Homo sapiens: one gene and its partners. The protein of the gene in region 1 interacts with the protein of each later gene in a pairwise test. Each region holds a gene or a part of one and is shown in the gene's direction. Other genes may lie near its edges.

What was found.
Region 2: the proteins of HERPUD1 (region 1) and C5AR2 interact in a two-hybrid assay, tested with the Homo sapiens proteins (one large-scale study listed by BioGRID and IntAct).
Region 3: the proteins of HERPUD1 (region 1) and STARD9 interact in a two-hybrid assay, tested with the Homo sapiens proteins (one large-scale study listed by BioGRID and IntAct).
Region 4: the proteins of HERPUD1 (region 1) and CCR2 interact in a two-hybrid assay, tested with the Homo sapiens proteins (one large-scale study listed by BioGRID and IntAct).
Region 5: the proteins of HERPUD1 (region 1) and EWSR1 interact in a two-hybrid assay, tested with the Homo sapiens proteins (one large-scale study listed by BioGRID and IntAct).
Region 6: the proteins of HERPUD1 (region 1) and IMPA2 interact in a two-hybrid assay, tested with the Homo sapiens proteins (one large-scale study listed by IntAct).
Region 7: the proteins of HERPUD1 (region 1) and CHRM2 interact in a two-hybrid assay, tested with the Homo sapiens proteins (one large-scale study listed by BioGRID and IntAct).

What each region holds. Positions count from the first base shown.
Region 1 is NC_000016.10:56,930,905-56,934,941, forward strand, and holds the start of HERPUD1 (homocysteine-responsive endoplasmic reticulum-resident ubiquitin-like domain member 1 protein), read left to right. Parts: upstream 1-1,237; 5' UTR 1,238-1,340; coding exon 1,341-1,487; exon of another isoform or gene 1,488-2,390; coding exon of another isoform or gene 2,391-2,411; intron 2,412-4,037. UniProt on the Homo sapiens protein: Component of the endoplasmic reticulum quality control (ERQC) system also called ER-associated degradation (ERAD) involved in ubiquitin-dependent degradation of misfolded endoplasmic reticulum proteins.
Region 2 is NC_000019.10:47,334,709-47,338,943, forward strand, and holds part of C5AR2 (C5a anaphylatoxin chemotactic receptor 2), read left to right. Parts: intron 1-2,386; exon of another isoform or gene 2,387-2,461; intron 2,462-4,235.
Region 3 is NC_000015.10:42,690,319-42,694,553, forward strand, and holds part of STARD9 (stAR-related lipid transfer protein 9), read left to right. Parts: coding exon 1-4,024; intron 4,025-4,141; coding exon of another isoform or gene 4,142-4,154; exon of another isoform or gene 4,155-4,209; coding exon 4,210-4,235. UniProt on the Homo sapiens protein: Microtubule-dependent motor protein required for spindle pole assembly during mitosis. Required to stabilize the pericentriolar material (PCM).
Region 4 is NC_000003.12:46,358,962-46,361,861, forward strand, and holds the end of CCR2 (C-C chemokine receptor type 2), read left to right. Parts: 3' UTR 1-715; coding exon of another isoform or gene 716-899; 3' UTR 900-1,979; downstream 1,980-2,900. UniProt on the Homo sapiens protein: Key functional receptor for CCL2 but can also bind CCL7, and CCL12. Also transduces signaling mediated by CCL13.
Region 5 is NC_000022.11:29,291,750-29,295,984, forward strand, and holds part of EWSR1 (RNA-binding protein EWS), read left to right. Parts: intron 1-387; coding exon 388-420; intron 421-738; coding exon 739-857; intron 858-4,235. UniProt on the Homo sapiens protein: Binds to ssRNA containing the consensus sequence 5'-AGGUAA-3'. Might normally function as a transcriptional repressor. EWS-fusion-proteins (EFPS) may play a role in the tumorigenic process.
Region 6 is NC_000018.10:12,005,293-12,009,527, forward strand, and holds part of IMPA2 (inositol monophosphatase 2), read left to right. Parts: intron 1-3,045; exon of another isoform or gene 3,046-3,117; coding exon of another isoform or gene 3,118-3,299; intron 3,300-4,235. UniProt on the Homo sapiens protein: Phosphatase that can use myo-inositol monophosphates, myo-inositol 1,4-diphosphate, scyllo-inositol-1,4-diphosphate, glucose-1-phosphate, beta-glycerophosphate and 2'-AMP as substrates in vitro.
Region 7 is NC_000007.14:137,014,901-137,019,135, forward strand, and holds part of CHRM2 (muscarinic acetylcholine receptor M2), read left to right. Parts: coding exon 1-1,366; 3' UTR 1,367-4,235. UniProt on the Homo sapiens protein: The muscarinic acetylcholine receptor mediates various cellular responses, including inhibition of adenylate cyclase, breakdown of phosphoinositides and modulation of potassium channels through the action of G proteins.

The sequences.
Region 1 (4,037 bases):
CAGGTGGTAATGCAGCGATAGGGAGCAGCTGTAAATACAGATGAAGCTTCGCTGGTGGCTCACCTCCTGCGGTGCCGCCTGGTTCCTAATAGGCCAGGGACTCATAGTGGTCCGTGGCCCAGGGGGGTTGGGGACCCCGTCTTAAGCCATCCAGTTTGTGGCACTTTGTTATGGCAGCTGCAGCAGATGAATATACCCACCAACCAGACCAGGCTCCTCCTGTTACCTTCCTGACCTTGACAAGCTCCTGACAACACCTGAAAAAACAGATGTCCCAAGGGGGTTGGAACAAGGAGGGAGCCGGGGCAATGTCAGTTTTGTTTTTCAAGCCTTTTTTTTTTTTTTTTTTTTTCCTACAGAGGAGGAGGAGGGAACGCCTACAATAAAGAGGCCTTTATGGTCCCACTTCAGGAATCGGAGAACCCCGCCCTCCTCGTCTCAGCCCCAATTTAACGGGTGCATGTGTGAGTATCTTATAAAGTGACGCGTTTTGAGGGGGACTCCAGTGTGAGCAGGACTGTGGCTGACTTGTCAATCATCATTAGGGTGATGTCCCAAACGTTCAAGTCTGAGGCCCAGGGAAATTGGCAACAGCTGCCTGGATGCCTCCATCCTCCCAGCCCAAGGAAAATCTGGCCTTGCTCCTTCGTTGTCTTTCTTAGGAGCACGTGGAGTTCTCCTAGGTGGGCTTGCACTCGGGGTCGCCCAGCCGTTCTTTGAGGGTTCGAGTGGGTAGGCTTCCCCTGTAGGACGGGCTTCCCCGTAGGTTTCCACGTGGGGCCACAGAGGCAGGAAAAGGGGAAGTGGGCACTGACACCTGGGGTGAAAAAGGGTGGGGGTGCGGCTTTGTGAGGAAAGAATTTGCAGAGACTGCTAAACTGGGGTCTGCTAGGATACCCCACTCCCCACCCCCTGCCTCGGGCGCCCTCAGCCACCCGAGCTGGGGGCCTCGCAGGTCTCAGACCAAGCTCCCCGCGCGGCCTGCAGCGCACCCAAACATGGCCACCGAACCCGGGTTCCCGGGGCACAGCCGCGCCTCTGGGTGACGCAGACGCGGCGGGTTGCATCAGCCCGTGCCCACGTGCTCGGTCCGCCCTCTGCCACCCGGATCCGGACGCCGATTGGGCCACGTTGGGAGAGTGCCTCCGCCTCAGCCAATGGGCGGCAGCCACAGAGCGTTCTGTCCGCAGAGCCGGGCGCGGGGCTTCTATAAAAGGCGCCCGAAGCGGGGGCGCGCGCCCCAGAGACGTGAACTGTCGTTGCAGAGATTGCGGGCGGCTGAGACGCCGCCTGCCTGGCACCTAGGAGCGCAGCGGAGCCCCGACACCGCCGCCGCCGCCATGGAGTCCGAGACCGAACCCGAGCCCGTCACGCTCCTGGTGAAGAGCCCCAACCAGCGCCACCGCGACTTGGAGCTGAGTGGCGACCGCGGCTGGAGTGTGGGCCACCTCAAGGCCCACCTGAGCCGCGTCTACCCCGAGCGTCCGGTGAGAGCGGCCCCGACTTCCCGCCCCTAGGCTGTGGCCCCCCGCCCTCTGCTGGGGATGCCACGTCCGGCTGCCCTGTCCTGTGGCCTCCTCCCGCTGACGGCTGCGATCGCTCGGCCGGTCACCTCCCCCAGGGCTGTGGTCTCCCCTTCCCTGCCCCGCCGACGCGGGCGCCCCTCTGTTGCCCAGTAGCCGTCAGTAATCAGCAGCCTGACCTTGGGCGAGTCATTTCACCCTCCAAGCCTGTTTCTCCCCCAGCGGCCAGGCAACTCGGTGTTCCTAATTGGGCTTGCATCCAATGGCTAGAAGTAAGAAAACATCCGTGCTGCAAAATGAGGTTTCTGAACGCAGCCTCTCTGCAGGGAGAGGAGCGGGCAGGTGCCACCCGGGGCCGTGGCTTGAGAAACCTGGGGACCGCCCAGACACTGTGGACGGAAGGCCCCACACCCAGAAGCAGGACGTGGCTCTTCTCCTCCCTGGCCACCTTCCGCCGTGCCCCTCCCTGTCGCACTGGACCGAGCAGCCATTGCCGAGTCCCGGGGTGGAGCCCCGTGCACTTTCTGACCAAGAGCGACTGAGAAGGGAAGCAGGCAGGAGTCGCCTTCAGTCTGGTTTTAGGACGGCAGCCTCTCCATTATTAGCAAGACTTCCTTGCTTTGTTTTGGTTGACACATCTGTCAACATCACCCTTAGCACCGCCTGCCCTGGCCACCACGTGATGAGGCTGTAAGCTGGCCCTTCCTGTATTTACTTTCTGCTCTGATATTATGTAAGTGTCAGCAGTGTTCTTCACTGCCCACGAGCATAATTCTTCATCACACAGGAGAGGGCATCCGGGCAGGAAAAGATAGTGAAGTCGTGAGTTCCAGCTTGTGGTAGCGCCTGTGTCTGTTTTTGTTTCATATGGTCAAGAATGTTTTAGAAGTGAGTTTTCCTTCTGAGTTGTTATTTTGAAATTTGCATATTTATTTAGTAAGCTTGCATTCCATGTCCTCTAGAATTCACCCTGGCACATTTTTCAGTTTCACCATAGCTGCTTCCAAGAAACTGGGTGGCTGTGTTGCCATGAGAATGACTATTGGGTACACAAATTGGTGAAGCAGGTGTAGCCTATGGTTGCATCATATGGCAAAAGGCAGGATTTTGGCGGAGGATTTTTAAGGTCTTCCTTTGATGAGGAATGCCGCTCCCATCTGTTCAGTCTGAAGACCTAACATTGTAAACAAATACCTCTCAGGTATACAAATTTGTGTCTAAAAATTATTATGGCTGAAACATACTTATCATTTGTTTTCTGTAGTAGAAAATGGCATAATATGAGAAGGCCTACTTTGTAATAGTTGTTTGCTTTACTTAATATTTTTCAAATCAGCCATCTGTGTGAAGACTCAATATCAAGTTAGGCCTTTAAAAGGGGGAAAATAATTCAAAACCACTGGCAGCTGTGGTTTTCCGGCCTTTTCTATTGGTTGAACTCTGTAATAAATGCAGGACCCTACATATACAAAAGGTACTGTTTTCCAAATTCACGTATGTATTAGCATTTACCTTTAAAGTTCTCATCCGTCAGAAAAACGGTGAACACAGCATTCAGTATATTTATTTTGGTTTAGTTACACAGTGTCAAAAAGTTCTGATGTATATGGATAAGTAGATGCACTTTTTGCTGTTTTGTTTGTTTAAACAGCTTGCTTTAATTATCTCAAGCTACTTGGCAGGAACACCTTTATTCCAGGTTTCGCATAATCAGTTATTCTGGCAAGAGTAGATTAACACGTTAGTGATCTCCAATAGACAGATTATATGTTAATATTATTTGAGGCCATTATTTTTAAGTACAATTTAGACGGAGTTTCAAATAGATTTTAAAAATGAGATTTGTATAAAAGAGTGTGCAGTCCCTATGGTGTTAAAATCACTGATATGGAGGAGAAGAGGGGTTGGAATTGTGACACTGTGGCAGCAGATGACCTTGGACAAGTCAGTTTTTCAGACTTTCCTCCCTTAAAATAGGGATACTAAATCTCACAGGGTGGTTGTGTATAATGTCACCCACACGCCATCTCCTCTATAACTGCATTTGTATGCCAGGAAATTGTCTGTGAAGGCTTCAGTTTAGAATAGCTTCATATTATTTTGGGGCACTGCTGGGTGATTTTGGTTAAGGCTGGCCTTGGGAGTTCTCTGAGTTTTCTCTGAAACCAAACTCAATTTGGTTGTAGGTTCCCTGTTTGCTGTTTGTTGCTTTTAGTAATAGGAGTCAGTCAGTTTACCTGGGAGTTAAGTTTGGACTGGAGATAATTTGCCATTCTTTTTTTTTTTTTTTTTTTTTTTTTTTGAGATAGGGTCTCACTCTGTCGCCCAGGCTGGAGTGCAGTGACATGATCTTGGCTCACTGCAACCTCTGCCTCCCTGGTTCAAGCGATTCCCCTGCCTCAGCCTCCTGAGTAGTTTGGGTTACAGGCACAAGCCACCACGCCCAGCTAATTTTTGCATTTTTAGTAGAGATGGGGTTTCACCATGTTGGCCAGGCTGGTCTCGAACCCCTGA
Region 2 (4,235 bases), on another chromosome or scaffold:
TGAACATCATAGCCTACTTTTTTTTTTTGAGACAGGGTCTCACTCTGTTGTCCAGGCTGGAGTGCAGTGGCGCGATCTTGGCTCACTGCAGCCTTGACCTCACGGGCGTAGCCTACCTCAAATGTGTTCAGAACATTTACATTACCCAACAGCAAGACAAAATCATCTAAGCCAAATCCAATTTTTTTTTTTTTGAGATGGAGTCTCACTCTGTCACCCATGCTGGAGTGCAGTGGTGTGATCTCAGCTGACTGCAACCTCCACCTCCCAGCTTCAAGGGATTCTCCTGCCTCGGCCTTCTGAGTAGCTGAGATTACAGGCACTCGCCCCCACGCCCAGCTAATTTTTTTTTTTTTTTAAATCTTTAGCAGAGATGAGATTTTATCATGTTGGCCAGGCTGGTCTCAAACTCCTGACCTCAAGTGATCCGTCTGCCTAGGACTCCCAAAGCGTTGGGATTACAGGTGTGAGCTTCTGCACCTGGCCCTGTTTCTCATTATTCTCCTTACCATTGTTATTGAATGGCCTTTAGTTAATAAGCACCACTTGGGCAGACAGTGGACTGTTTTTGATGCTTTGAGGACGAATGGGGTTGATATCTGTACAGATAGACAGGAAAACAGATATCGGGCACGTTAAGTGGAAAAGATGAAGAAATGGAACAACGTATGTTGAAAGCTCCCATTTCTGGTTAAGACGTTACAAAGGAAATGCCATCTACGATACCATTGCTTTGGGCTTACAGCTGGGCAAATTATATGCACAGAAAGTTTCCTGGATTGGGCTGGGCATGTTGACTCACGCCTGTAATCCCAGCACTTTGGGAGGCCGAGGTGGGCGGATCATGAGGTCAGGAGATTGAGACCATCCTGGCTAACACGGTGAAACCCTGTCTCTACTAAAAATACAAAAAATTAGCCGGAAGTGGTAGCGGGCGCCTGTAGTCCCAGCTACTCGGGAGACTGAGGCAGGAGAATCATGCGAACCCGGGAGGTGGAGCTTGCAGTGAGCCGAGATCGCACCACTGCACTCCAGCCTGGGCGACAGAGTGATACTCCGTCTCAAAAAAAAAAAAAAAAAAAAAAAAAAAAAAAGAAAGTTTTCGTTTTCTGGATTGTAATCAACAAGGGCCAGGAAGGGTGGAGTCTTTGCGGGGTGAGAGGATGCGTGTGGACAGTGATAACAGCAGCTAGCCTACGTATGACACCCACTGAAAACCAGCGCTATACACTCAGCTCTACCCTTCTAACTTGTTGAATTCTTACAACACCCCCTAAGGCAGGAATATTATTATTCCCATTTTACTGAGGCACAGATAGTTTAGGTGACTTGCCCAAGGCCACACAGCTGGTAGGAATTTGAGGGTTTTTGTTGTTGTTGTTTGTTTGTTTGTTTTTTATGATGCAGTCTCGCTGTTGTCGCCCAGGCTGGAGTGCAGTGGCATGATCTTGGCTCACTGCAACCTCTGCCTCCCGGGTTCCAGCGATTCTCTTGCCTCAGTCTCCCGAGTAGCTGGAATTACAGGAGCCCACAACCATGCCTGGCTGATTTTTGTATTTTTAGTAGAGACCAGGTTTCACCATGTTGCTCAGGCTGGTCTTGAACTCCTGGCCTCAAGTGATCCGCCCACCTCGGCCTCCCAAAGTGCTGGGATTACAGGTGTGAGCCACTGTGCCCGGCTAGGGGGGGTTCAGTTTTTAAATGCTGTACTCTTTCTTTCTTTCTTTCCTTCCTTCCTTCCTTCCTTCCTTCCTTCCTTCCTTCCTTCCTTCCTTCCTTCCTTTCTTTCTTTCTTTCTTTCTTTTTCTTTCTTTCTTGGGACAGGGTCTCACTCTGTTGCTCAGGCTGGAGTGCAGTGGCGCGATCATGGCTAACTGCAGCCTCAAACTCCTGGGCTCATGTGATCTTCCACCCCAGTCTTAGAAAAGGTTGGGATTGCAGGCACGAACCACTATGCCTGGCTAATTTTTAAATTTTTTGTAGAGACAGAGGGTCTCACTGTGTTGCCTAGGCTGGTCTTGAACTCTTGGCCTCAAGCGATCCTTCCTCCTCAACTCAGCCTCCCAATGTACTGGGATTACAGGTGTGAGCCACTGCACCTGGCTAAATTCTGCACACCTTTTACTCTAGGGATAAAAATAATACGAAAGTGGAATGCCAGACTCCGAATACACACACCAAGTGGCCTGGACTCTTCACTGCTACCTGGCATGGGGGAGGGGAGTGCCCCAACTTCCTCTCTGTCCTTCCTGTTGCCTCAACACCAGCTGGAGTGCTGAGCAGTGCCAGCCAACCCATAATAGTCAGCAGAGAGCCTCAGGGCCAGGTCACTCTGACATTGTGGGGGTGGGGGGGTGGGGACTCCTGCCTGGGTCCTGTGCTACCCACAGCTTTGTCTACCGGAGCCTGTGTGCCACGTGCTGGACAAATCTTAACTCCTCAAGGACTCCCAAAACCAGAGGTAGGTTCACCTCAATGACTCTTGTTTCCCCGATGAGGAAATAGGCACAGCCAGCTGCAACTGACACCCACAGTCATGGAGGCCGGGGCTGCTCAGGACCACTTGCTGTGCTGCCTGCCAGCTCTCCAGAGCCCAAGATTTGGAGATGGTAATATTCTAGGGCATGGGGTTCTGCAGCGGGGACTAACACACTTTGAAATTTACCTACTTAGGGCTGGGCGCGGTGGCTCATGCCTGCAATCCCAGCACTTTGGGAGGCTGAGGTGGGCGGATCACAAGGTCAGGAGTTCGAGACCAGCCTGGCCAATATGATGAAACCCCGTATCTACTAAAAATACACAAATTAGTTGGGCATGGTGGCGGGTGCCTGTAGTCCCAGCTACTCAGGAGGCTGAGGCGGGAGAATTGCTTGAACCCTGGAGGCGGAGGTTGCAGTGAGCCGAGATTGCGTCACTGCACTCCAGCCTGGATGACAGAGCGAGACTCTGTCTCAAAAAAAAAAATTTTACCTACTTAGCTGAGTGATCTTAGGTAAATTACTTAACTTCTCTGTGCCTTATCTGTAGAATAAATATAACAATAGTGTCAAATTCAGACAGTTATTATAAGGTTTCAGTGAGGTCAGGCACGGTGGCTCATGCCTGTAATCCTAGCACTTTGGGAGGCCGTGGCAGGCAGACCACTTGAGGTCAGGAATTCCAAACCAGCCTGACCAACATGGTGAAACCCCGTCTCTACTAAAAATACAAAAAATTAGCCCCGGGCATGGTGGTGCACGCCTGTAATCCCAGCTACTCGGGAGGCTTGTGGCAGGAGTAATGCTTGAACCCAGGAAGCAGAGGTTGCAGTGAGCCAAAATAGCGCCACTGCACTCCAGCCTGGGTAGCAGAGTGAGACTCCGTCTCAAAAAAAAAAATAAATAAAATAAAATAAAACAAGGTTTCAGTGATACAGTGTTTAAAGCTGCGTGGTGGCCACTGCCTGTAGTCCCAGCTACTCAGGGGGCAGAGGTGGGAGGATCACTTGAGCACAGAGTTTGAGGCTGCAGTGAGCCGTGATTGCACCACTGCACTCCAGCGTTGGCAAGATGGCGAGACCCTGTCTCTAAAAAAAATATATATATATAAATTTGCCAGGTGTGGTGGTGCACACCTGTAGTCCCACGTACTCAGGAGGCTGAGGTGGGAGGACCACTTGAGCCCAGGAGTTCGAGGCTGCAGTGAGCCAAGATAGTGCCATTGCATTCCAGCCTGAGTGACAGAGCAATATCTGTCCCTAAAAAAAAAAAAAAAGTTGACACAAAACACAAAATGTTCAAGAAACAGTGGCTTCCAATAATAATAATTTTATTATTATTATTATTGTCAGGCACAGTGGCAATCATGCCTGTAATCCCAGCAGTTTGAGAGGCTGAGACAAGGCAGGTTGCTTAAGCCCCAGAATTCAAGACCAGCATGGGCAACATGGTGAAACCAGATGACCTCCAAAATAATAATAATAATAATAATAATAATAATAATTAATCAGGCATGATGGTGTGCACCTGTAGTCCTAGCTACTTGGGAGGGTGAGGTGGAGGGTTGCTTGAGCCCAGGAGATGGAGGCTGCAGTGAGCTGGGAAAGTGCCGCTGCAGTCCAGTCTGGGCTACAGAGCCAGACCCTGTCTCAAAAAATAGTAATAATATAGTAATAATATTATTGTGGCCCGACATGGTGGCTCACGCCTGTAATCCCAGCACTTTGGGAGGCTGAGGCAGGTGGATCACCTGAGGTC
Region 3 (4,235 bases), on another chromosome or scaffold:
AGGAAGCCCCATGTAGACACCCAAGGGAAGCTTTAGATGGCCCTGTCTTCTCAAGGAACCCTGAAGGCAGCAGGACTCTCAGCCCGTCTAGAGGGAAAGAGAGCAGAACTCTTCCTTGCCGACAGCCATGCAGTTCTCAACCTGTTGCTACTCATGCTTATTCCTCCCATTCCTCTACTTTACTGTGTTTTAGAGATGGTGACCTAGGGAAGGAGCCTTTCAAGGCTGCCCCACATACTATCCACCCACCCTGTGTAGTACCTTCCAGGGCCTATGAAATGGATGAGACAGGAGAGATCTCTAGGGGACCTGATGTGCACTTGACACATGGCCTTGAGCCCAAAGATGTTAACAGGGAATTTAGGCTAACAGAGAGCAGCACTTGTGAGCCTTCTACTGTGGCTGCTGTCCTATCTCGAGCTCAAGGCTGCAGATCCCCTTCTGCTCCTGACGTGAGGACAGGTTCCTTCAGCCACTCAGCTACTGATGGAAGCGTGGGGTTAATAGGGGTTCCTGAGAAAAAGGTTGCTGAGAAGCAAGCAAGCACAGAACTTGAGGCTGCCTCTTTCCCTGCAGGCATGTACTCTGAGCCCCTGAGGCAGTTTAGGGACAGCTCTGTAGGTGACCAGAATGCACAGGTGTGTCAAACCAATCCAGAACCACCTGCAACAACTCAGGGACCACACACCCTGGATTTAAGTGAAGGGTCTGCTGAGAGCAAGTTGGTGGTAGAGCCACAGCATGAATGTTTAGAAAATACCACTAGATGTTTTTTGGAAAAGCCACAATTTTCCACTGAGTTGAGGGATCACAATCGCTTGGATTCCCAAGCCAAGTTTGTAGCAAGGTTAAAACATACCTGCAGCCCCCAGGAAGACAGTCCCTGGCAGGAAGAAGAGCAGCACAGAGACCAGGCTTCAGGTGGTGGAGAAGGCTTCGCCCAGGGTGTGAATCCCCTTCCTGATGAAGATGGCTTAGATGGCTGTCAGATTTTAGATGCTGGGAGAGAGGAGGTGGCTGTGGCCAAGCCTCCTGTGTCCAAGATTTTATCACAGGGCTTCAAAGACCCAGCCACTGTGTCCTTGAGGCAAAATGAAACACCGCAGCCTGCTGCTCAGAGGAGTGGCCACCTCTACACTGGCAGAGAGCAGCCAGCACCCAACCACAGGGGCTCACTTCCTGTGACTACAATCTTCTCTGGCCCCAAACACTCCAGGTCCTCCCCCACACCACAGTTCTCAGTTGTCGGCTCTTCTCGTTCTCTTCAGGAGCTGAACTTGAGTGTGGAGCCTCCTTCCCCTACAGACGAAGATACACAGGGGCCTAACAGATTGTGGAACCCACATCTCAGGGGCTATTCCTCAGGAAAGTCAGTGGCAAGAACATCTCTGCAGGCTGAGGACAGCAATCAGAAAGCCTCATCTCGCTTGGATGATGGGACTACCGATCACAGGCACCTGAAGCCTGCCACCCCTCCTTATCCAATGCCTTCCACTCTCTCACACATGCCAACCCCTGATTTCACGACCAGCTGGATGTCTGGTACTTTGGAACAAGCCCAACAGGGAAAGCGAGAGAAACTGGGTGTCCAGGTTAGGCCAGAAAATTGGTGCTCTCAGATGGACAAAGGAATGCTGCACTTTGGCTCCAGTGACATCAGTCCCTATGCGCTGCCGTGGCGTCCGGAGGAGCCTGCACGTATCAGCTGGAAGCAGTATATGTCTGGCAGTGCAGTCGATGTTTCCTGCAGCCAGAAGCCCCAGGGGCTGACACTATCAAATGTGGCCCGGTGCTCCAGCATGGACAATGGCCTAGAAGACCAGAACTCCCCTTTCCACTCCCACCTCAGCACTTACGCCAATATTTGTGATCTGTCAACCACACACAGCAGCACTGAGAATGCCCAGGGTTCAAATGAGGCCTGGGAAGTATTCCGAGGGAGTTCTTCAATTGCCTTAGGAGACCCCCACATCCCGACGAGCCCTGAAGGAGTAGCCCCCACTTCGGGTCATGACAGAAGGCCTCAGTTCAGGGGCCCTTCTGGTGAAGCAGACTGTCTGAGGAGTAAGCCCCCCTTGGCCAAAGGAAGTGCTGCAGGTCCAGTGGATGAGATTATGCTGCTGTATCCATCAGAGGCAGGCTGCCCTGTGGGACAGACCAGGACGAACACATTCGAACAGGGCACACAGACCCTCGGCAGCAGGCGCCACTGGAGCAGCACTGACATCTCCTTTGCTCAGCCTGAAGCCAGTGCAGTATCAGCCTTTGATCTGGCCTCATGGACCAGCATGCACAATCTGTCTCTCCACCTCTCACAGCTCCTGCACAGTACCTCAGAGCTGCTTGGGAGTCTCTCCCAGCCAGATGTGGCCAGAAGGGAGCAGAACACCAAGAGGGACATCCCAGATAAAGCCCCACAGGCCCTGATGATGGATGGCTCTACTCAGACCACTGTGGATGAGGGCAGCCAGACTGACCTCACCTTACCCACCCTGTGCCTCCAGACTTCAGAGGCTGAACCTCAGGGAGCCAATGTGATCCTTGAAGGGCTAGGCTCAGATACCTCGACTGTGTCTCAAGAAGAGGGAGATGTGCCAGGGGTACCTCAGAAGAGAGAGGCAGAGGAAACAGCACAGAAAATGGCTCAGCTCCTCTATCTTCAGGAAGAAAGCACTCCCTACAAGCCCCAGAGCCCTTCAATACCCTCATCCCACTTGAGGTTTCAGAAAGCCCCCGTTGGGCAGCATCTTCCTTCTGTGAGCCCCTCAGTTTCTGATGCTTTCCTGCCTCCCAGCTCCCAGCCAGAGGAGTCATATTGCTTAGTTGTCAGCAGTCCCAGTCCCAGCTCCCCTCATTCCCCAGGGCTCTTTCCCAGTACTTCCGAGTATCCTGGGGACTCCAGGGTCCAGAAGAAGCTGGGCCCCACAAGTGCTTTGTTCGTGGACAGGGCCTCCTCCCCAATCCTCACTCTTAGTGCCAGCACCCAAGAGCCGGGTCTTTCCCCAGGCTCTTTGACCCTCTCAGCCCCTTCAACTCACCCTGTTGAAGGCCACCAGAAGCTTGACTCCAGCCCAGACCCTGTTGATGCCCCAAGGACTCCAATGGATAATTATTCCCAAACCACTGACGAGTTAGGTGGCTCCCAGAGAGGTAGAAGTTCCTTACAAAGGAGTAATGGGAGATCCTTCCTTGAGTTGCACTCCCCACACAGCCCACAGCAGAGTCCAAAACTCCAATTTAGTTTCTTAGGGCAGCACCCTCAGCAGCTTCAGCCCAGGACAACTATCGGGGTCCAAAGCAGACTGCTGCCACCACCACTGAGGCACAGGAGCCAAAGGCTGGGCAACAGCTTTGTGCCTGAGAAGGTGGCTTCCCCGGAGCATTGCCCACTGAGCGGTAGGGAGCCAAGTCAGTGGCAGAGCAGGACAGAAAATGGAGGTGAGAGTTCAGCATCTCCAGGGGAACCACAACGCACTCTGGACCGACCTTCTTCATGGGGAGGCCTCCAGCACCTCAGCCCCTGCCCTGTCTCTGAGTTGACTGATACTGCAGGGCTCCGAGGTTCTGCCTTGGGCCTCCCTCAGGCCTGCCAACCTGAGGAGTTACTGTGCTTCAGTTGCCAGATGTGCATGGCCCCTGAGCACCAGCACCACAGTCTGAGGGACCTCCCGGTGCATAACAAATTTAGTAACTGGTGTGGGGTTCAGAAGGGCTCACCTGGGGGGTTGGACATGACTGAGGAGGAGCTGGGGGCCAGCGGTGATCTCAGCTCTGAAAAGCAGGAACAGAGTCCCCCACAACCTCCTAATGACCACAGCCAGGATTCTGAGTGGTCCAAGAGGGAGCAGATCCCCCTGCAAGTTGGGGCCCAGAACCTCTCACTCAGCGTGGAACTCACAGAAGCGAAACTGCACCATGGCTTTGGGGAGGCCGATGCCCTGCTCCAGGTGCTGCAGAGTGGGACAGGGGAGGCGCTTGCTGCTGATGAACCTGTGACATCCACCTGGAAGGAGCTCTATGCACGGTAAGGACCCCCAGCCTGGAGTCGGGAGGGGAAGGGGTGGGCTGTGAGGAAAGAGAACCCAAGAAAGCTAATAGCTTGCTGTTTCCTCTGCCCTGGTTCATCTCTGGGATCTTCCAGGGGTCAGAGATAGATCTTAAAGTGAAGGACATTCAGGGCCAGCTTCAGCGAATCGTGTTTTGCCTCAGGCAAAAAAAGGCCATTGAGACCCTCA
Region 4 (2,900 bases), on another chromosome or scaffold:
AGAATGTGACAGGCACAGATGAATGGGAGTGAGGGATAGTGGGGTCAGGGCTGAGAGGAGAAGGAGGGAGACATGAGCATGGCTGAGCCTGGACAAAGACAAAGGTGAGCAAAGGGCTCACGCATTCAGCCAGGAGATGATACTGGTCCTTAGCCCCATCTGCCACGTGTATTTAACCTTGAAGGGTTCACCAGGTCAGGGAGAGTTTGGGAACTGCAATAACCTGGGAGTTTTGGTGGAGTCCGATGATTCTCTTTTGCATAAGTGCATGACATATTTTTGCTTTATTACAGTTTATCTATGGCACCCATGCACCTTACATTTGAAATCTATGAAATATCATGCTCCATTGTTCAGATGCTTCTTAGGCCACATCCCCCTGTCTAAAAATTCAGAAAATTTTTGTTTATAAAAGATGCATTATCTATGATATGCTAATATATGTATATGCAATATATATAGGCTCTTGCTTGATCTCTCCAGGAGGTAGTGATTATGAGAAGGGGGTGGAGAATGATGAGTTCCTTCACCAGGAGCAAAGGACGGGGATCGTGTGGAACCACTGCAGAACTATTTCCGAAATCAACTAAGTGGAGAGAGCCAGGAAGGCTGCATCAGAACCCAGTAAAGCTTCTTGTCTGGATCTGAGCTGGTTTGTTTTGTGCTTGCTTTTCCCTGCCTTGCCACTCCCCTCACTCTTCTCTTTTCCCCACAGCCTTTTTCACATAGCTCTTGGCTGTAGGATTGCCCCACTCCAAAAACCAGTGTGTGGAGGTCCAGGAGTGAGACCAGGAAAGAATGTGAAAGTGACTACACAAGGACTCCTCGATGGTCGTGGAAAAGGAAAGTCAATTGGCAGAGCCCCTGAAGCCAGTCTTCAGGACAAAGAAGGAGCCTAGAGACAGAAATGACAGATCTCTGCTTTGGAAATCACACGTCTGGCTTCACAGATGTGTGATTCACAGTGTGAATCTTGGTGTCTACGTTACCAGGCAGGAAGGCTGAGAGGAGAGAGACTCCAGCTGGGTTGGAAAACAGTATTTTCCAAACTACCTTCCAGTTCCTCATTTTTGAATACAGGCATAGAGTTCAGACTTTTTTTAAATAGTAAAAATAAAATTAAAGCTGAAAACTGCAACTTGTAAATGTGGTAAAGAGTTAGTTTGAGTTACTATCATGTCAAACGTGAAAATGCTGTATTAGTCACAGAGATAATTCTAGCTTTGAGCTTAAGAATTTTGAGCAGGTGGTATGTTTGGGAGACTGCTGAGTCAACCCAATAGTTGTTGATTGGCAGGAGTTGGAAGTGTGTGATCTGTGGGCACATTAGCCTATGTGCATGCAGCATCTAAGTAATGATGTCGTTTGAATCACAGTATACGCTCCATCGCTGTCATCTCAGCTGGATCTCCATTCTCTCAGGCTTGCTGCCAAAAGCCTTTTGTGTTTTGTTTTGTATCATTATGAAGTCATGCGTTTAATCACATTCGAGTGTTTCAGTGCTTCGCAGATGTCCTTGATGCTCATATTGTTCCCTATTTTGCCAGTGGGAACTCCTAAATCAAGTTGGCTTCTAATCAAAGCTTTTAAACCCTATTGGTAAAGAATGGAAGGTGGAGAAGCTCCCTGAAGTAAGCAAAGACTTTCCTCTTAGTCGAGCCAAGTTAAGAATGTTCTTATGTTGCCCAGTGTGTTTCTGATCTGATGCAAGCAAGAAACACTGGGCTTCTAGAACCAGGCAACTTGGGAACTAGACTCCCAAGCTGGACTATGGCTCTACTTTCAGGCCACATGGCTAAAGAAGGTTTCAGAAAGAAGTGGGGACAGAGCAGAACTTTCACCTTCATATATTTGTATGATCCTAATGAATGCATAAAATGTTAAGTTGATGGTGATGAAATGTAAATACTGTTTTTAACAACTATGATTTGGAAAATAAATCAATGCTATAACTATGTTGATAAAAGATTTAAAAACAACTGGCTGTTTTTTTACACTGTGGTGTGGAAGATTGTGTTGTGTTCACAACTTTTCACTTCTTCCCCTGTGTGATTACACACACCTGCCCTTGTGGTGTGACTTGCAGTGCGCCCTACAGGCCACACACCCCACGCCCTCCACCACTGGCTCTGCTGCTGGAATGTGAGCAGAAGTGACATCTGCCTCATCCAAGCGGAGCCTCTTGCTCAGCCACAGGAAGGCCCATTCCAGATCACACCCGTCAGCCCGTGCGCCCTGGTGAATGAGAAGACACAGGGAGCTGCAGCCACATATAACATGAGCAAGAAGTCTGTGTTTGCTGTGATAAGCCACTGAGTTTTAGGGGTTGTTTGTTAAGAAGCACAAAAACCGATTAAGACATGTGGTATATAGTGACTTCATATATAGAATCTGGAAAACTATCCATTTATTTTCAATCATGGAATTCAATATGACAAGCATCCCGGAGGGTCTACCTATGCCAGACTGGGTTGGAAACAGAAAGACAGATGTTAATGCCAGTGTCCTTTACACCTCCAAGTCCAGGGCCAGCTGTGGAGTGGGAGGGGTAGAGAAGGTCCTGTGCACAGTCACAGTGCGCTGTGCAGAGCAGGAACAGAGGCATCTGTGAAAAGTGCTGAGAGCCTGGAGGACAGAGTGACTAATGCAATGACAGTCTTGCATCATAGGAATAACAGCCACAGCAGGATTTTATTGCTGCCAAAGAAACTGCCATTTAAAAATTGCCAGCCATCCGGGAGGCTGAGGCAGGAGAATGGCATGAATCCAGGAGGCGGAGCTTGCAGTGAGCCGAGATCGGGCCACTGCACTCCAGCCTGGGCAACAGAGCCAGACTCCATCTCAAAAAAAAAAAAAATGCCAACCATCTCTCTTTCTAAAGTGGAATCCTCAAGTCTCGT
Region 5 (4,235 bases), on another chromosome or scaffold:
TAATAAGGTTAACCTATGGTTACAAAACAAAGGGTAACTTGAAGTATTGAGTAACTGCTTCTGTAATATGGGGGAGAATAAATTTTTAAATTTGGTTTATTTAGAGGAAAAATTTTGACTTAAATTTAACACTGATTTGGCACATAAGCATTGAGAGTGTATTTGGTTAATGGTTTAGAAGCAAACCAGCAAAGGAAAAAAGCAAACCCTAGCAAACCTTTCACAAATGTTAAAGAGACACTGCTCCATTTTAGCAGTGCGGGTCATTTTGAGTTTAATGAATCCCCATCAAATGGTGGTATAGTAGATAGCTATGTGTGTTTGTAAGGTTTGTAGCTTGCAAGACGTGCACTAATAATATTTTATATGATCTTTCCTGGTTGGCAGGACCCATGGATGAAGGACCAGATCTTGATCTAGGTAATTTTGAATTCTAGTTGTGCTTCATATCGTGCTTTGTAAATTAATGGTACAGAGGTAAATGCATGCGTAGAGTTCAGCAGCCTTATAGACCAGTGTGATATTCTTGCTGTCAAGGACAGTTTGGGAAATCCTATGTGAGCATCTACTCATAATTGCCTTAAGTGAAGTAAACCAAAAGTTTGATAGCATTCTTCTTAGTATGCTTGGTAGTTTTCTTAGATTTATGATGAATATCCTTGGGCAGTAGTGATCAGGTAGTTAAGAAACCCCTATAGATACATGATAATAATTCTCCTGTCTTGTTGTCTCTGAAAGGCCCACCTGTAGATCCAGATGAAGACTCTGACAACAGTGCAATTTATGTACAAGGATTAAATGACAGTGTGACTCTAGATGATCTGGCAGACTTCTTTAAGCAGTGTGGGGTTGTTAAGGTCAGTAAAAGCATAACCAGGTCATCTGGCAGAACTTTAAACCACAGAGCATTTTAAAGAGATTGAATTGATGTTGAGAGTTGTTTTCTAAGGTTGCCTTTGCCTGACTTCTTTCTAGGTATCTTATGGTTTGTTCCTTTTTAAAAAAGATTAGCCTTTTTTTTTTTTTTTTTTTGAGACGGAGTTTCCTTCTTGGTGCCCAGGCTGGAGTGCAATGGCGCAAGTCTTGGCTCACTGCAACCTCTGTTCAAGCGAATCTCCTGCCTCAGCCTCCCAAGTAGCTGGGATTACAGGTGTGCGCCACCAGCTAATTGTGTCTTTTTAGTAAAGATGGGGTTTCACCGTGTTGGGCAGGCGGGTCTCAAACTCCTGACCTCAGGTGATCTGCCCACCTTGGCGCCTCCCAAAGTGCTGGGATTACAGGTGTGATCCCCTACGCCCGGCCTTCCCTCCTCCACCCCTAGGGACAGAGTGTTGCTCAATCTCAGCCTCCCAGGTTCAAGTGATTCTCCCACCACAGCCTCTTGAGGTAGCTGGACTTATAGGCACATGCCACCACACCCAACTAATTTTTATATTTTTAGTGGAGATGGATTTTTGCCTGTTGGCCGGGCTGGTCTCTAACTCCTGGCCACCTCAAGTGGCCACCTACCTCAGCCTCCCAAATTGCTGGGATTACAAGCATGAGCCACTACACCCAACCTCAAATTATTGTGTCTTTATGCTAATTCTTCATAGCTAGTAACGCAGATTTTTTCTTCAGGGATTTTGACTGTTTTTCAGTTCTTGCTCTTCTGTATTAGAGTTAGTTTATGAACCCCATAAACCTCAAAACCTTAAAACCCCAATTGAATATTTACTAAATCTATGAAGTAATTTCAGGAGAATTTACATTTTTATGATACTGAGTGATCTTTTTTTCCCCATGAAGATTTTATTTCTCCATTTATTTGTATATTTATTTGCTTATTTATTTACTGAGACAGTCTTGCTGTGTCACCAGGCTGGAGTGCAGTGGCACGATCTCGGCTCACTGCAGCCTCTGGCTCCTGGGTTCAAGCGATTGTCCTGCCTCAGCCTCCTGAGTAGCTAGGATTACAGGTGCCCGCCACCACACCCAGCTAATTTTTGTATTTTTAGTAGAGATGGGGTTTGGTGAAACCATGTTGGTCAGGCTGGTCTTGAACTCCTGACCTCAGGTGATCTGCCGCCTCAACTCCCAAAGTTTTGTGATTGCAGACATGAGCCACTGTGCCTGGCCTGTCTCTATTTGTTATTTTATTTTACTTTGAGACAGAGTCTCACTCCTTCACCCGGCTGGATTGCAGTGGCGCAGTCTTGGTTTACTGTAACCTCTGCCTCCCGGGTCTCCTTGCCTCAGCCTCCCGAGTAGCTGGAATTACAGGCGCCTGCCAGCACCCCTGGCTAATTTTTGTAAGTAGAGATGGGATTTCACCAGGTTGGTCAGGCTGGTCTTGAACTTCTGACCTCACGTGATCCACCCACCTAGGCCTCCCAAAGTGCTGTGATTACAGGTGTGAGCCACCACACCCAGCCTATTTAGATCTTCAGTAAAGACTATCGATTTCCTTAAAGGTCTTGCAAATTTTACTAGTTTTACTTCTAGGTTTCGTTTATTTTCAAGTTGCTGTGGTTAAGGGTCTTCGTTAAATGACACTTTTCTGGTTATTACTGGTGTATAGAAATACAGTTGATTTGGCCGGGCGCGGTAGCTCACGCCTGTAATCCTAGCACTTTGGGAGGCCGAGGCGGGTGGATCACGAGGTCAGGAGATCGAGACCATCCTGGCTAACACGATGAAACCCCGTCTCTACTATAAATACAAAAAATTAGCCAGGCTTGGTGGCGGGCACCTGTAGTCCCAGCTACTCGGAGGCTGAGGCGGGAGAATGGCATGAACCTGGGAGGCGGAGCTTGCAGTGAGCTGAGATGGCGCCACTGCATTCCAGCCTGGGTGACTGAGTGAGACTCCGCCTCAAAAAAAAAAAAAAAATACAGTTGATTTTGGGCGGGCGTGGTGGCTCATGCCTGTAATCCCGGCACTATGGGAGGCCGAGGTGGGTGGATCACGAAGTCAAGAGATCGAGACCATCCTGGCCAACGTGGTGAAACCCCGTATCTACTAAAAATACAGAAATTAGCCGGGTGTGGTGACACGCGCCTGTAGTTGAGCTACTTGGGAGTCTGAGGCAGGAGAATCAGTTGATCCCAGGATGCAGAGGTTGCAGTGAGCTGAGATGGCGCCACTGCACTCCAGCCTGGCGACAGAGCAAGACTCCATCTCAAAAAAAAAAAGGAAATACAGTTGATTTTGGTAAATCTTATATAAGGTGATTTCTCCCTGCTTGTAGGTGTGTGTGTGCACAGATATCACACACACCTCAAAAGTAAAATGCTTTTAGTGTCTACTGTCACATTCTACCCTGTGCAAGACTCCTTGTTTGCTTTTTTGTTTTGAGATGGAGTCTTGCTCTGTTGCCCAGACTGGAGTGCAGTGGCACAATTTCAGCTCACTGCAACCTCCGCCTCCTGGGTTCAAGCCTCAAGCCTCTTGAGTAGCTGGGAGTACAGGCTTGAGCATATTAAAAAGACTGCTTTTTAATATGTATATAACATGTAGTTTATTGAGGAATGTGGAGTTTATCCTGGTTAAGAAAGTAGTATTTACCATCAAAATTTTGGAAATAAAGATGTTAAAATAGATTTCCAAGCTGGATACAGTGGCTCACATGTGTAATCCCAGCACTTTGGGAGGCCAAGGCAGGAGGATCCCAAGGATTGCTTGAGCCCAGGAGTTTGAGACCAGCCTGGACAACAGAGTGAGACTCTGTCTCACAAAAAAGAAAAAAATGCATTTCCACATTATTCATACCACAGTTTTGCCATATTTTCTTTTCAGTTTTTAGGTATCACGTTCCTTTTTTTAAGTCAGAGGTATCAATATATATATCCTGTTGTAATCTTTTTTAAGTCCTATAAATAGATTGCTCTTGTGTTACTGGATATATGTAAACAATTACAGACTAAACTGATCGTGTGCATATATAATGCAAAAAAGTACACGTGAAGATATTCTTATACAAGGTAGCTCCTGAATTCAAGTCAACCACATCTGATATTCAGCTGAAAGACTAGTCATCTGTTCTAACTGGAGGAAGTAGTGGCTGTGTTAGACTAACCAAGAATCCCTGTAGTTCACTCACAGCCTGTACACTGTCCTTCACGGTTTAAGGATAATTTTCTTTATGCCAGTCATGTCTTATGTGGTGGTATCAAAGTCTGACTACCCCTACGAGGTGGCTGTGCTCAGTGGATACCTGTCTGGGCATAGAAAATGCCAGGGCAGGCAAACCAGCA
Region 6 (4,235 bases), on another chromosome or scaffold:
TGTGGGTACTTAGAGTTATTCTCATAAAAAATGTGAGGCAGAGTTAGTCAGGTGTGGTGATGCATGCCTGTGGTCCCAGCTACTCAGGAGGCTGAGGCAGGAGGATTGCTTGAGCCCAGTGGTTTGTGGCTTCAGTGAGCCATGATTGTGCCACTGCACTCCAGCCTGGCTGACAAAGCGAGACCATGTCTCCAAGAAAAAAAAAAAAAATTTCTAAAAGTACTTGCTGGGTTACACTAAATGAAACCTAAAAAACAAATAGATAAATAATAAAGGTTACACACAGCAGAAGCTTTGTTAACAAATTAACTTATATTAATAGTTGCTGCTGGGAAAACAAGCTGCTTGGTGACTTCCCTAAAGGGTGTCCCACGCATCTGGCGAATGAACAGACAGAGCTCCTGCTCCCGAGTGTCCTGGGAGGCACGTGGGCATGCCGCGTGGGTGGTCTGGGTGCTGCAGCGTGAGTTGTCCTGGGTGTGGAGTGTCAGTGCCTGCAGACCCACACTGCCTCCTCCTTCAGGGCTCACTGGCAGTTTTCTTTCCACCGCTTCAGTTTCCTACTTGAAGTCAGGTTTAAAAAGGAGAAGAATTGCACATTCCTCCTCAGTTTCTTAGAAACTTACCTTTGTGCCTGAGTCATTTCTAGTCCCTCTGGACCTGAGTCATATCTGTTCGCTGCTTTGTCAACCTTGTGCCCAGTTTAAGCTTTCGTAGTTGCTCCTTGTATGTGTGTTTTCAGGGTGTGGAGCGTTTTCTTTAAAAACGTCATTGCAAGCCATTACAGAAGAGGAAAGTCACATAGCTACAGAAGACATGGAAAAACAGATTTAGTGCCTGAAGTTTCTAGGAAAACTGGCAGTGCTGACAGCACTTATGATCACGCCCTAAGTGGAATCATCACCTGTGTGTCTCCTGCAGGCTGCTGTTGTCAGGAGGCAGCCTCTCCACCCCCTGCCCCGGCTGCCATTGTGGCTTCTACCCACCATTTTTCCTCCTAGATCTGTTTGGGGAGCACCAGTTCCTGAGCAGGGGCTCTGGCTGGTGGGCCTGTGCATCACCTGACCTAGAAGCATGTGGACAACTGAGAGTGGAGAGGCAGTTCCTGCAAGGAGCAAGGCGTGCAGTGTAGATGAAGAACCAGAAGCCTGGGTTCACTGCATCTCATCTGCCTTGCCTGGCTAGGCTGAAAGCTCCAGGGGCAGACTGAGCCTGCCCAGGCTCTCCAGGAACAGCTGATGATTCCTTGGGTGTCTTGCTTAGTGCTCCTGGCTTGACTTGACCTGGTCTTCTTGGCTCAGAAGCCCCTGCTTATTCGTGGGTTTCTCCAGGGGGCCGGGGAGGAGGTCGCACAGCCTGAGATGATGTATGCGTGCACTTGTCGTATCCCAGGGTTGTATTTCTAGATAATTTATCAGCAAAATGGAGGGGCTGGATGACTCTGCATCCCAGGCATGAACTTCATAACCCAGCAGTGGAAGGATGGTCCCAGAGTGGATGGGGACCAGGGTGGTTACAGTGTGTATGGCAGCTCCCGTGCATAGAAAAGTGACATCGGGCCAGGCGTGGTGGCTCACGCCTGCAATCCCAGCACTTTGGGAGCCTGAGGTGGGCGTATCACGAGATCAGGAGTTCAAGACCAGCCCGGCCAGCATGGTGAAACCCCATCTCTACTAAAGATAAAAAAAATTAGCCAGGCGTGTGGCGCACGCCTGTAATCCCAGCTACTCATGAGGCTGAGGCAGGAGAATTGCTTGAACCCGGGAGGCAGAGGTTGCAGTGAGCTGAGATCGCGCCATTGCACTCCAGCCTGGGCGACAGGGCGAGACTCTGTCTCCAAAAAAAAGTGACATCGAATACCATGAGATGCCTGCTGTTGCCTCTCAGCATCTCGGTGGGAGGACAGCACTGCCAGCGGCTCTGTCTGTTGCTGCAGGGGTGGCCCACATCTGCTGTGTCCACAGTGGTAGCCGCTCACCCACGTGACTGCCAAGCACTTGAAAGGTGGCTCATGAGACTGAAGAACTGAAGTCTTTATTTAATTCAAATGTAAGCAGCCATATGCGGTGACTGGCTACTGTAAGGCGCTGAGCGGTCACAGAGGTTTTCATTTCAGTCTTTCCATTCACACTCAAGTCTCCAGCCTTATCCAAAAGTTCATTGATGCCAAATCTTAGACCACATGGTTCGTGCGGGGAAAGTGGCTTCCAGGAGGCTGATGACCACAGTGGATAATACACCAAACACCAGAACATGGGACGCTTCTTTCTTTCTTTCCTTCTTTTCTTTCTTTTCTTTTCTTTCTTTCTTTCTCTTTCTTTCTTTCTTTTTCTTTCTTCTTTCTTTCTTTCTTTCTTTCTTTCTTTCTTTCTTTCTTTCTTTCTTTCCTTTCTTTCCTTTCTTTCCTTTCTTCCCTCCTTCCCTTCTTTATTTCTCTCTCTCTCCTTCCTTCCTTCCCTTCCTTCTTTCTTTTCTTTTTCTTTTCTTTCTTTTCTTTTTTTTGAGATGGAATCTCACTCTTGTCACCCCGGCTGGAGTGCAATGGCATGATCTCGGCTCACTGCATCCCTCCCGTCCTGGGTTCAAGCGATTCTCCTGCCTCAGACTCCCAAGCAGCTGGGATTATAGGCGTGCGCCACCACCCCCAGCTAATTTTTGTATTTTTATTTCTTTTTCTTTTTTTTTCTTTTTGAGATGGAGTCTCACTCTCCCAGGCTGGAGTGCAGCGGTGTGATCTCAGCTCACTGCAACGTTAGGATCACTGCAACCTCCGGCTCACTGCAACCTCCACCTCCTGGGTTCAAGCAATTCTCCTCTCTCAGTCTCTCAAGTAGCTGGGAGTACAGGCGCCCACCACCACGCCCAGCTAATTTTTGTATTTTTAGTAGAGACAGGGTTTCACCATGCTGGCCAGGCTGATCTCGAACTCCTGACCTCAGGTGATCTGCCCGCCTTGGCCTCCCACAGTGCTGGGATTACAGGCGTGAGCCACCGCGCCTTGCTTGTTTTTCACTTATTTTCTTTTTCTTACTCTCTGCAGGTCTCCTTTTTCTCTAGTACACATGTGAACCCGGCACAGGAACTGGATAGAAAACCTCTCGGCAAGGCCACATAGTCATGCACAGAACAGATGTTTGCTTAGCGCCTGCCCAAGGCCTCACCCTTAGTGAACTTGGGACAGTCCAAGAGTGTCAAAAGCACTGCCCTGAATGCTTTAGATCTAGTCTTTTCTTTGATCCTGAGAATGCCTTTGGAAGGTGTAAACAGCGGCCAGCTCCACAGGGACCAGCCTGCAGAAGGTGGGCTGCGAATACACCTGACCACAGCATCTTCCCTGTGTGTGTGGGCCTGCGTGTGGGTGGGGTGCAGGAGGAAGGGTGACAGTGCATGGGGCGAGAGTGCTTTCCCTTGTTTTTGGCCTGAGCAGGGGGTGCTGGGAGTTGCCATTCGTGGAGGTAGAGGCAAGTAGAGAAAACCAGGAGTTCCCTTCTGTGCAGGTGAATCTTGAGAGAACATTGTCTCGGTCAGGTTCCTAGCAGGACAGACGCACACTCAAGTGAGGATTGTAGGGGGCCTTGTTTGCAGAGGGACTCATTACAAAGGAGGGGCCAGCCCAGGGCCTGCTGCAGAGTGCAGGAGCAGGCCGCCCATGTCCCTCTAGCAGGAATGTGTCAAGCAGGCCACATGGAGGAGTGGAGCCTGCACAGGGCACATGGGGCAGGGAGCGTCCCAGCCTCTCTCCTTCCTGCAGCCCCACCCTTGCTTGCTCCCAGAGGGAAGCTGGATTTGTGACTGGCCAATGTAGCAAGACCCCACCTCTACAAAAATAAAAATACTAGCTGAATGTGGTGGTATGCATCTGTAGTCCCAGCTACTTGGGAGAACAAAGCAGGAGGATTGCTTGGATCCAGGAGTTTGAGGCTGCATGAGCTATGATGATACCACTGCACTCCAGCTGGGCAACAGATCAAGACCCTATCTCTTAAAAAACAACAACAAAAAAACCAGGGAAGTCAGATACCAGGGCAGGAAGGGCACCTTTGGGAAATGAACCAGCTGCGGGGGGGCTCTGTTTGTCACCTGTGTCTGCAGTTCAGGTGAGCCAGGCTGGGTACAGACGTGGGAGATCTCAGCTGCAAGTGACATTTAACCCCTCGGTGCCCAGGTATCAGCATTGACTGGGAGAATCAAAGTCAGAGTCCTGGGCCACCTTGCTTGGTCATATCTCATCAGCC
Region 7 (4,235 bases), on another chromosome or scaffold:
GGCTCTTACAAGTCCTTATAAGACATTTGAAGTGGTGTTTATTGTCCTGGTGGCTGGATCCCTCAGTTTGGTGACCATTATCGGGAACATCCTAGTCATGGTTTCCATTAAAGTCAACCGCCACCTCCAGACCGTCAACAATTACTTTTTATTCAGCTTGGCCTGTGCTGACCTTATCATAGGTGTTTTCTCCATGAACTTGTACACCCTCTACACTGTGATTGGTTACTGGCCTTTGGGACCTGTGGTGTGTGACCTTTGGCTAGCCCTGGACTATGTGGTCAGCAATGCCTCAGTTATGAATCTGCTCATCATCAGCTTTGACAGGTACTTCTGTGTCACAAAACCTCTGACCTACCCAGTCAAGCGGACCACAAAAATGGCAGGTATGATGATTGCAGCTGCCTGGGTCCTCTCTTTCATCCTCTGGGCTCCAGCCATTCTCTTCTGGCAGTTCATTGTAGGGGTGAGAACTGTGGAGGATGGGGAGTGCTACATTCAGTTTTTTTCCAATGCTGCTGTCACCTTTGGTACGGCTATTGCAGCCTTCTATTTGCCAGTGATCATCATGACTGTGCTATATTGGCACATATCCCGAGCCAGCAAGAGCAGGATAAAGAAGGACAAGAAGGAGCCTGTTGCCAACCAAGACCCCGTTTCTCCAAGTCTGGTACAAGGAAGGATAGTGAAGCCAAACAATAACAACATGCCCAGCAGTGACGATGGCCTGGAGCACAACAAAATCCAGAATGGCAAAGCCCCCAGGGATCCTGTGACTGAAAACTGTGTTCAGGGAGAGGAGAAGGAGAGCTCCAATGACTCCACCTCAGTCAGTGCTGTTGCCTCTAATATGAGAGATGATGAAATAACCCAGGATGAAAACACAGTTTCCACTTCCCTGGGCCATTCCAAAGATGAGAACTCTAAGCAAACATGCATCAGAATTGGCACCAAGACCCCAAAAAGTGACTCATGTACCCCAACTAATACCACCGTGGAGGTAGTGGGGTCTTCAGGTCAGAATGGAGATGAAAAGCAGAATATTGTAGCCCGCAAGATTGTGAAGATGACTAAGCAGCCTGCAAAAAAGAAGCCTCCTCCTTCCCGGGAAAAGAAAGTCACCAGGACAATCTTGGCTATTCTGTTGGCTTTCATCATCACTTGGGCCCCATACAATGTCATGGTGCTCATTAACACCTTTTGTGCACCTTGCATCCCCAACACTGTGTGGACAATTGGTTACTGGCTTTGTTACATCAACAGCACTATCAACCCTGCCTGCTATGCACTTTGCAATGCCACCTTCAAGAAGACCTTTAAACACCTTCTCATGTGTCATTATAAGAACATAGGCGCTACAAGGTAAAATATCTTTGAAAAAGATAGAAGGTGGGCAAGGGGAGCTTGAGAAGAATAAAAGGGATAAACGAGCTCCTAGTTTTAAAATCTCTGCCATTGCACTTTATAGTCTGATTACAAAACGTGCAATTCAGGAGCCCAGCAGTGACACACTTATCACGCCTAGGCTCCAGTTTGCAAAAATTGCACCTTATAAACTGTCAGTATTAGGAGCAATGAGACAATGAAAGAAACATGTTGGGATCGTGGATTTAAGAAACTATACACTGTTTCTCATAATCTCTTGAAGAAGGGCTTCTGATTCTACAATTTTATCAGTCTCTGCACAAGAGGAATAACCTTGTTCCTTTTTTGTTACTTTTGTTGTTGTTGTTCTCATGTGTCCTTAAGAGAAGGAAATGCCACAGTTACAAGGTAAACATGGAGACTTAAACATAAAGAAATAGGCACTATACAATGGGGACATAAAAAAAGAAAATCAAAGAAGGATGCAGAAATTGTCTCCGGAGTGTTAAGCATATTTTATTCTTTTGTTACGGTCCTATTTAGAGGATTGGAATGTAATAAATGCTTATTTTTTGCCTTTCTTTTTCCCACCATGAAGAGAAAGCAAACAAACAGAAACCCCAACTAGGTCACACCATTTTTCTTCTTGTTATGCCACTATTTTGTACATCCCTGTTCTATATTGTTTATAGGGAAAACCTACAGGACTTTCACTAAAGCTAGCCAGAGACAGCCATGAAAATGGACGTTTCACCCCTCCTCACTGTGTCCTTTGCATTCGTTGGGGATATCAAGGTCTATAAGGATTTAGTGCACTTATAATCCTATATGCGAAATGTTTAAACCAATCTGATTTTCTCCTAAATAGCCTTTTATATCAACAGAATATCCTACCTAAAACATAAACCTGTTTAAGAAACCATCGTCACTGTAAAGTTGAGGTTTCATCAAATTAAATAATGGACTATCTAGTTGGACCAAGTTTATTAAAGTCAGGTGAATTTTAAGATTAAAAAATAGAAGTTTAGGACTTTCTATTTCAACCTGAATTTGCCTGACCCATGTATGAAATGTTAACTTATAGAAAATGAACTCCTGACTTTCTCAGCAGAAAGGAATGCTGTTTTATTTATTTGGAATCCTAAACAGGATTAACATACTCACATAGCACCAGTGATTTCTGGGCCAGTCCCTAGAGAATAGAACCTTCTATCCAATGCCTGCTAAAGGATGATATTCAAATTATAACCAAGTGAGGATGTCTGCAATTATCCTATGACCCCATGAAAGGGGAAAAAACGATATTTTAAAAACTATTACTGAAACAATTACATATTCCATATTCCTCAAATTGTCAATTCTCCCTAACATTATTTAACTTCAAAATTCTCTTATCAATAGAATTATAGTAATCTTTGTGACAGAAATGTAGTGGCTAACTAAATAGAGGCCAAACGAGCTTACAGAATCTGACAGAAGGAGGTAGGTGGCTGTTGCCATGCCACATCTCACCATCTAATTCTAGACCATAATAATCATGTCAGGAACTATTATCTAAGTGGTGGCATTATATAGAATCTTGCCACGTAGAGATTTTTTATTTGGTCGTCTAAATAAATATAGGATTAGGATTATACGGATTCACATACAACTAGTTATTTTTATCCTTTATATTTTTCTTACAGTATTTGCTGTAGTTTTCCAATGAGATTTTCTAAAAATGGCTCAATCAATGGAAATCAAATTATAAACGCATTTGCAAATTTCATATTTTGGATTTTAGATTTATGATATCTTGTTCAGTAATAATAATGTTAGTTACATGGTAAATTTATCAATATTAGACCCCAGCACTTAAAAGAATTATTTTGTATGATTAGCCTCATAGATGCCACCTCAACATTTTGGAGAGTTAAGGAGGAAAAAAAGCATGAGGGAAAAAAAAAACCAAAAAACTTATAAGTTAGTAAGAAGCAAATTGCCAGCAGTATTTATATTTGACTTATCCTTCGTAAAAACAATTTCCTGTTTAAATAACTTCAGTCATTACCCCCCCAAAGTAATCTTCCATATTTAAAGCATTCATTTATAGAGATTCCCTTACCTACAGTTACTTCAACATGCACTTTTACATTTTAAATTCATATTTATTTTCATATTGTTTCTTCAAATGAAGGAATCAGTTGAACGGAAATAACGTCAAGCCAGTGGGCTCCTCGAGTTTCTGAAAACCAGAGAATTGACTAGCCAAGTATTTCCCTTTTTAATGTATTGTATTATTATTATGTAGATTTGGCTTCAGTTGGGAAGAACCCTTTGGCATCCAGGATTCAGGATTCAGGGTCTTTTTTTGTTTGCTCTAATAATCCAACGCACCATGAATCAAGCTTTTAGTCTCTGCTGCCATTGTATCCTTCCTTTTCCTCCCTCTGTTATTGATCCTTGCCACAGCCACTGCAACCTCATTGAAAGAGAAACTGTCACTTTAAAGAAAGAAATTGAAGATAGGCTGACACCATGGAAACTACGTCAAACAGATAAGAAAAATGGAAGGAATACTGAAAATGATAGATGATTGGAGAGATATGGAGATTATATTCAAGGATTTTTATTAACCACTGCTGGATTTGTCTATTTCAGTGGCTCTCAAACAGAGACAATTCCCCTCTCCCCGAAAGGGGACACTTAGCAATGTGTAAAGACATTTTTGGTTGCCACACTGGGAGGAATGCTATTGGTATCTAGTGCATAGAGGCTGGGAATGCTGCTAAATAGCCTATAATGCTCAGGACATTTTCCCCCAACCCCTTTAAACAAATATTATTTGGCTCAAAATGTCAATAGTTCCAAGATTGAGAAATTCTTGTCTA